Linked DNA regions of Homo sapiens. The protein of the gene in region 1 binds, or shares a complex with, the protein of each later gene. Each region holds a gene or a part of one and is shown on either strand. Other genes may lie near its edges. A codon is read from its position in the direction of its gene.

Evidence for each region.
Region 2: the proteins of ADGRF1 (region 1) and GNAI1 are in contact, whole or in part, in a cryo-EM structure (PDB 7X2V), measured with the Homo sapiens proteins. Residues at the interface, in NP_722582.2 of Homo sapiens: Lys615, Gln618, Thr619, Arg623, Leu682, Arg685, Ile686, Val689, Phe690, His692, Val765, Lys768, Leu769, Arg771, Arg788, Ser792, Ile795, Leu796; in NP_002060.4 of Homo sapiens: Arg24, Glu28, Arg32, Leu194, Lys314 (codon at 963), Asp315 (codon at 960), Glu318 (codon at 951), Thr340 (codon at 885), Ile343 (codon at 876), Ile344 (codon at 873), Asn347 (codon at 864), Leu348 (codon at 861), Asp350 (codon at 855), Cys351 (codon at 852), Gly352 (codon at 849), Leu353 (codon at 846).

The regions. Positions count from the first base shown.
Region 1 is NC_000006.12:47,032,333-47,035,832, forward strand, and holds part of ADGRF1 (adhesion G-protein coupled receptor F1 isoform 1 precursor), read right to left. Parts: intron 1-3,500. UniProt on the Homo sapiens protein: Adhesion G-protein coupled receptor (aGPCR) for N-docosahexaenoylethanolamine (synaptamide), an omega-3 fatty acid lipid highly enriched in the brain.
Region 2 is NC_000007.14:80,214,831-80,218,330, reverse strand, and holds part of GNAI1 (guanine nucleotide-binding protein G(i) subunit alpha-1), read right to left. Parts: intron 1,029-3,500; coding exon 838-1,028; 3' UTR 1-837. UniProt on the Homo sapiens protein: Guanine nucleotide-binding proteins (G proteins) function as transducers downstream of G protein-coupled receptors (GPCRs) in numerous signaling cascades.

The DNA.
Region 1 (3,500 bases):
ATTTAGGAAGTAAAAATACAAGGTACCCTCAAAATTTTGAATTTCAAATAAACAATATTTTTTTAGTTAAGTATGCCTTGTGCAATATTTGCAACATTATTTGTTGTCTAAAATTATTTGTGTCTTATCTGAAATTCAAATTTAACTGGACATCCTATATTTGACAACTAGTCAAAGGTGGGAAAAAATGAAATCTCAAGGCACATGGTCAAAATGGGCTCTGTAGCTGTACTAGCCAGGGTCCTGTTCCCAGCTTTGACATTTATCAACTGGATGCCCTTTGGAATTGTCTCAGATTTTCTATACTTTGGTTTAGTCATCAAGAATACAAGGAAAATAGTATTTAATTCACAGGTTCTTAGGAGAATTGAATGAGTACTTTGCAAGTAAGGTACCCAGAGTGGTGCCTAGTATTTCAACCTTACCATCAGTTTTTATAGTTACTTGCTGGATTGTGTCAGAATTTGACTTCTCTGAGTGCACTTGGGTTAACTGATGGCCATCACTCTGGAAATGGAGGGATCCCAGCTTTGAAGCAATAAAGTACATTTTTACAGTAATTGAATTATCTGACTCAAAGGAAGGTCCACAGCAGCAAGGATGTCAGGGATTGCTTTGCGTGTGTGCAGGGTCATCATAAATCCCTCTGAACTTCGCCTTTAGTAAACATAAACCCCATGGTATTTTCATCGCTTCCCTTCCAAGCCGGAATGGTCCTGATTATTTAGAAATTCTCAGAATCCTTGTGTCCTTGCCACAGATGAGGAGCTGTTGTTGTCATTAGAGCATGACATGTTTCCATCACACCTTGTGCTGTGGCTGCTGGGGCCAGTGATGCCTGAGCTGCAGCTGTGTGGGCACCAGCTTCCGTGGGAAGGCTTGGCCATGGTGGGACGCCCCCTCCGCACTTCCTTGAATTCATTCAGTGAATTCATTCCCTGTCCTTCAGTTTACAGGGAACAATCATTAGAACGTGCTATTATGCCTCTGGAGAGGGCTGGCTGTTGTCTCCCTATTCTTTCAGTTATATACTTACGGACTCCAAATATCATTTATTTATGCCAACAGCTGTCTCCTTATCAACAGCAGGCTTAGTTGAAACTGCTCACACCTATACTTTCCAGCATTCTTGGCAACAATCTAATCTTAGGCACAGTTGAACTCTGCGCTGTTTCTCTGGCATCAATATTTATGGGATTATGTTTCTTTCTCTATAAACAGAATTCCCAGTAGAGCTGTCTCTTTCCTGTCCGTCTTGGCCTCACATGCGCCCATGCGCACACACACATTGATGAAAAGAGCAGGTCTCCACATAGGATCTAAAAGAAATCATGACTCAAAAAGAATTAGGCAGGTGACCTGTAAAACCTTGGTTTTGCTTTATCTCTCATTTTATCAGTTTTTGATAACATTTTCATTGGCATCTATCTTTTCTAGGAAGTGTTGGGCCACTTGCCTTTGAGAAAAGCTCCTGTGTGTTTCTGTAACTGAACAGAGACAGAGGAGAAGACAGCTGAGAAAATAGGTGGGAGGACAGAAAAGATAGCCACTTCCATCTTTGGAAAAATGGTTGGAGGTTTGGTAAGTTATATGAGCGAGACAAACTTCCTCTGGAAGGACAGTAATTTAAAGTCATTTAAAATCTCAGGGAAGGTCTATATATATGTGTGCACAGTAAAATTGTAAACACGTTTTATATTTTCACATGTTTTAGCACATTCATGTTTATAAACACAGCAGGAAGAGGTCTGGATGAATTACACTGTAACCTCATGTTTGTACCTCTTCCGTGAGGATTTGTGAAAGTTAAAACTCTGTGGGCTCGGTTTCCTCCTTTATACAGTAAGAGGAAAAATAAAGTGAGCTCAGATCTATTCACATTCAGGTTTCATTATTACATGCCCATTCCCCACATTCTATTTGTAGATTACTTATTTAATTGTTCTTTTATCAATGTCTGGCAGTCACCAAACCTAAGCCTGGAAAGATTACCGATTTCTACTCATCTTTATTCTTGTTTTCTCCTCAAACTGGTTATTAAATTCTTTAACATCTTTTGAGATGAGCTAAGAACCTACTAAGAATTTAATTATTGGGTTCAGAACAGAGGTATAATTTTTAAGAATTCTGGACTTGTAAGTCTGGAAGCAACAAAAAGAATTACTTGGCTCAGTCACTCCTCCCCCAGGACACTTCACCAATCTGTGCTAAACTTGCATTTGTTCAACTACCGTATACTGACAGCCTCCAATTTCCCAGGCATTGTGCCATGCACTGGCTGTTAACAATATGCTCATGCAGGATTATCACACATAGTAGCTCCACACCTCAAGAGAAACTCCAAAAGCCACAATCCAGACCCACTTTTGGGAACTTCTGGTTACCGAGAATCTCTGTTCCAGGATCCCTATTTTAACTCTCCTATGTTTCATTGACTGGTTGTGCCTTCAGAGTCCAGTTTGTGACCCTACCTCCAAATCTGATCCTTTTCCATCCCAGAATTGAGATATGTGCTTATAAGTTTGTGTTTCCTTTGCCACTCATTAGAACTTCATTCAGCTCAAGAGTATTTCTCCTGCTGCTGGTGCCTTCAGCCTAGCACAGCTGTCTGCTCCTTCCTAACGAGGATTCTGTTTTTCTATTTAGTCTGCGCTTTGCATCTGAGAAGAGCTTCACTCAGGATGATTTGTTGTTTTTAGCTCATTGCTCAGTATGCCTTCTGGCATTCTAGTAGGATTCATTTCCCACAGAAGACCAGTCCAGCTCGTTTCCACTGTAAAAGGCTTAGCTGCAAGCCTCATGGGTTGGCTCTATTCCAAACCCTTGTAACTGAAGACCCAGCCGCTTGTGGTTCGGTATAGCAGGAGTGACCATGAAGCCCTTAAAAGATGATTAATGGCATTCCGCAAAAGATGCCAAGCTCTTTCTTCTAGCCAAGATTTCAGCTTAGTAACAGGACCCAGTCTTCCTGTAATTCCTAGGTAGGGCTTATTTCTCATCTCCTCTACTTGACTTCATTTAAAGTAGGTAAAGTCCAGATAATTTGAGCTTCTTGAATTGTTTGCTTTTAAAAATAAAAAAGTACCTGAACAGAACTCCAGAGAGGTGATAGCTACCTAATTAAAAGAAATAAAATAATTCCTTCTAATTTACAAAGTGTTTTTAATAAGTTTTGATTTGATTATTTTGGCAATTGTGTAAGTTAAGTGGAATTTATTTTCATTTCACAATTGCAGAAAATGAAAAGGTAACATTTAAATTCTAAATACAACGAATTTTTTAACTATTTCCCTAAATTTCTCAGCCCAAAGAATCAAGTATTTCCCTTAGATCATGAGCCGGTTAGTTTTTGTTGCTTGGGGCATGATTTTAATAAAATCATGATTGTTAATTTGATCTCCACCTGAGTTCCTTACAAACAATTCTTTTCTCAGAAAAAGGAAGAACGTACATTTCAAACCTATCTTCCTGTTCCTGCATTAATTTGCATGTTCTCACTT
Region 2 (3,500 bases), on another chromosome or scaffold:
CAGCCAAATATTAAAATTCAGAGTGAAAACAAGTGAATAAAAACTAAGTGTGTACAATAAGTCTAAGACAGTATATCCTCAGAAATCTGAAATTTTAGTTTTTCAAACCAAATCTAACGTGGAATCTAATGTAAAATTAAATTATTTTATTTTCTTAAAGTAGGAAAAATCAAAATGCATACAATGTTTAAATAGTTGATCCAAAGGCAGGTGTATTCATCTTAAGAACATTTCAATAAAACACATAAAATTTAAAGAACAAATCATGTTATTAAAATAGTCTGTGCAATGTTTGTACAAATAACATTTTTATTAATACAAGTATACATATAATCTAGATAAGGGCTGTAATGTTTCCTAATATTAATTACTGTACTTAAAAATTTACAGGACATGAACATAAATAAAGCTGTTTAAAACTGGCAAACGTAGTAATAGTCTGTCATTCAGTACAAGGTATATTTATGTTATTTCCAAAGCCATCACCCTAAAATCCTAAGTTGCCACTCTTAAAACCTAAAAATAATGTCGAAAACTAAAGTCATAAATACATGTATACATACATTTGCATATTTACACTTATGCAGAAATCATCAATATACTAGAGCCCAGCTTTAACACTGTCCTTCAGTTTCACACTGCAGGACCATCTGTCACATTTAAGAAAGGTCCTTCTGTTACTTTCAGTTAAAAAAACAAAACAGAACAACTTTGGTCAAGTCCCAGATGCATTTGCCTTATATTACATTCTGTGTTGCTGCAAGACTCTAGTCTACAGAGATCCATATATAAGTACTCATTTGGTTTGAAAATGCATTTTACCATGAACTGCAAAACTTAAAAGAGACCACAATCTTTTAGATTATTTTTTATGATGACATCTGTTACAGCATCAAAAACAAACTGCACATTCTTAGTATCTGTGGCACATGTGAAGTGGGTGTATATTTCCTTTGTGTCCTTTCTTTTATTGAGGTCTTCAAACTGACATTGAATATATGCAGCTGCCTCTTCATATGTGTTTGATCCTGAGATGGAAAAAGGAAAGAAACATAAATGCAAAAAGTTAAAATAACTGCTTAAAATACTGAATTCAGTTTCATACATATGAAACTGAAGTCAGTTTCATACAGTTTCATTCATGGACTCCTTAACTGTGCTTTCCCTTCTAGAATGGGAGACACTATTTCTTCTAAATGAAAAACACTCCATGTTAATTACCTTTAATGACTAAGTTATCCCTTAAACAAAAAATTTCCTTTACATGGCATTCCGTGTTCATCATGATCTTTGTTCCTGCCTCAATCCTCAAATGCCAGATCTTTTATCCTCTTATCCTCTGTCCTCTACACCCCAGCTCAGATGCTTGACGACGGCATGCTATTTCAGTTCTGGCCCAATGGTGGATCAAAAAATGTTGGCTGAATGCTGATCAGTATTTTTTCCTCCCTTTTCTATATATACATTAATTTGCATTCTTCACTCATTTTTCTTTATTCAAAAATTGTACCAAGGTCTACAATGATGTTTAGGAGTATGAGGTTACAAAAAAAGTGAATGACACACTCCAGCTTTCAGGTTATTGACTATAAAAGACTTCCTCTGAGTACAAACACTCCAGAAATTGTTTGGCAATATCTAAAGATAATCACACACACACTCTGACCCCGCAATTCAGTTTCTAGATATACACTTGACAGAACTGTGTATCACTGAAGACACAGAAGAAGTGAGAATGAAAGTACTCAGTAACATGAATTAATCTCCTAAGTGTACTGTTGAGCAAAAGAAGCTAGATGCAAAAAGATCGCATACTGTATGATCCAACAATGTTTGAAAAATGAACTGGTGAGGACAAAAACCTCACCAATAGTGTCTGTGGAACATGTGAAGTGGGTGTATATTTCCTTTGTGTTCTTTCTTTTATTAAGGTCTTCAGTGATTATCAGTGAGTAATCAGTGATTACTATGTGTATGGGTTGTGATTGTGTTATGTGTGTGTTGTGGGGAGGGTTTGATTGGTTAAGACTGAGAGGAAGCATGATGGGGCTTTCTGGGGTCCTGAAGCTGTTTGGTTTCTTGACCTGAGTGGTGGATACTGGTACATTAACCTTTAAACACGCACTTATGCTGAGGGTGTGTGTGTACGTATGTATGTATGTACATAATATTATAATATACATTAATGTATATAATGTAATGCTCTATGTAATGCTTCAATAAAAAAACTGAAAAACATTCAAATTTCATTTGGAAAAAAACTGTTTAAACCCCTCTTTTGTAGTAATAATCCAAAATTATCTGCCAGACTTTCAAGGTCCTCTACTACCCAGCCTGCTCTGCAGTGCCATCATTCTGAGATCCTCTCCTCCACACTGGCGCTCACCCCAGGTCCATGTCGTGAGGACCTAACATGCAAACTGCCACCTGTGGTACTGTAGTACTTCCTCTTCATTCTACTTCACCGGCTGAGATCTCTGCCTGCCTTCACATTTGCTCAAAATTGGCACTCCATCTAACTTTTCCTAATTAATCAAATCTAGCTGGGTTCTCTATCACTTAAAAACTTTTTCCTCCTCCTAGAAATAACTATTTCAGTTTTTGTTATATTGCTTTATAGAGTCTTAAATTCTTTTTCAGTGCTGAATCTCCTAAACTAGAATGTGAACTCTTCAAGAGTAAATATCATACCCCACAAGCCTCATACTCCTTTTATATCTTATAGAATCCAGTGTAATACAATGTGACAAATGCCCATAGGAATGTTGTGTAATGTGCTATGACAGCATAGATTATGAGATTTTTATTAGGGATAAAAAGGTACTAAAGCTATCGTCTTTAAGTTTACATTTTAACTCTTTTATATCACTAGAAATCACATACTTTTAAAAATCAAATTTTATTAAATCATAAGTTTCGTTCTCCAAAATTTTAAAGCAATCAACAGCATCTTGTTGGCCCACAGAAGCTAATGCAACTGCTAAATTAAACTATGCTTCAGCCAAACAGCTTACATTGAGTGCCTAGCTCAATTTGCTCTATATATCCTAGGCAGCTAGCTAGATTACCCTAAAAGCTACAACACATATGAATGAACATTCTTCATTCTGATTTTAAGTCTTAAGAAACAAATGGCAAAGCAGGGACAGGAGAGCAAATATGATAGATTGTTTTTTAATGTGTGATAGAATTGTCCTGAACAAAGGTAAGTATAGGTGATAACCAGGTTCAAAAATGAAGAACTGGGAGGCTGATGACACAATCAAAAGGGAAAGAGAAGAGATCTGAGTGTAAACAAGAAAAAGAGTTCTGTTTGAGCTTCAGGTGCTAACCAACCAACCAACCGACCAACCCAACCAACCAAACAACAACAAAACATGTATGTTCAAGCAGTTGCTAATGTAAATCTAAGGCTCCAGAGAGAAATTAGGGCTGACCACAAAATTTAACCTATTGAGAATAGATACGACTATGAAAGGATAAGAGAGCTAAGATGACGT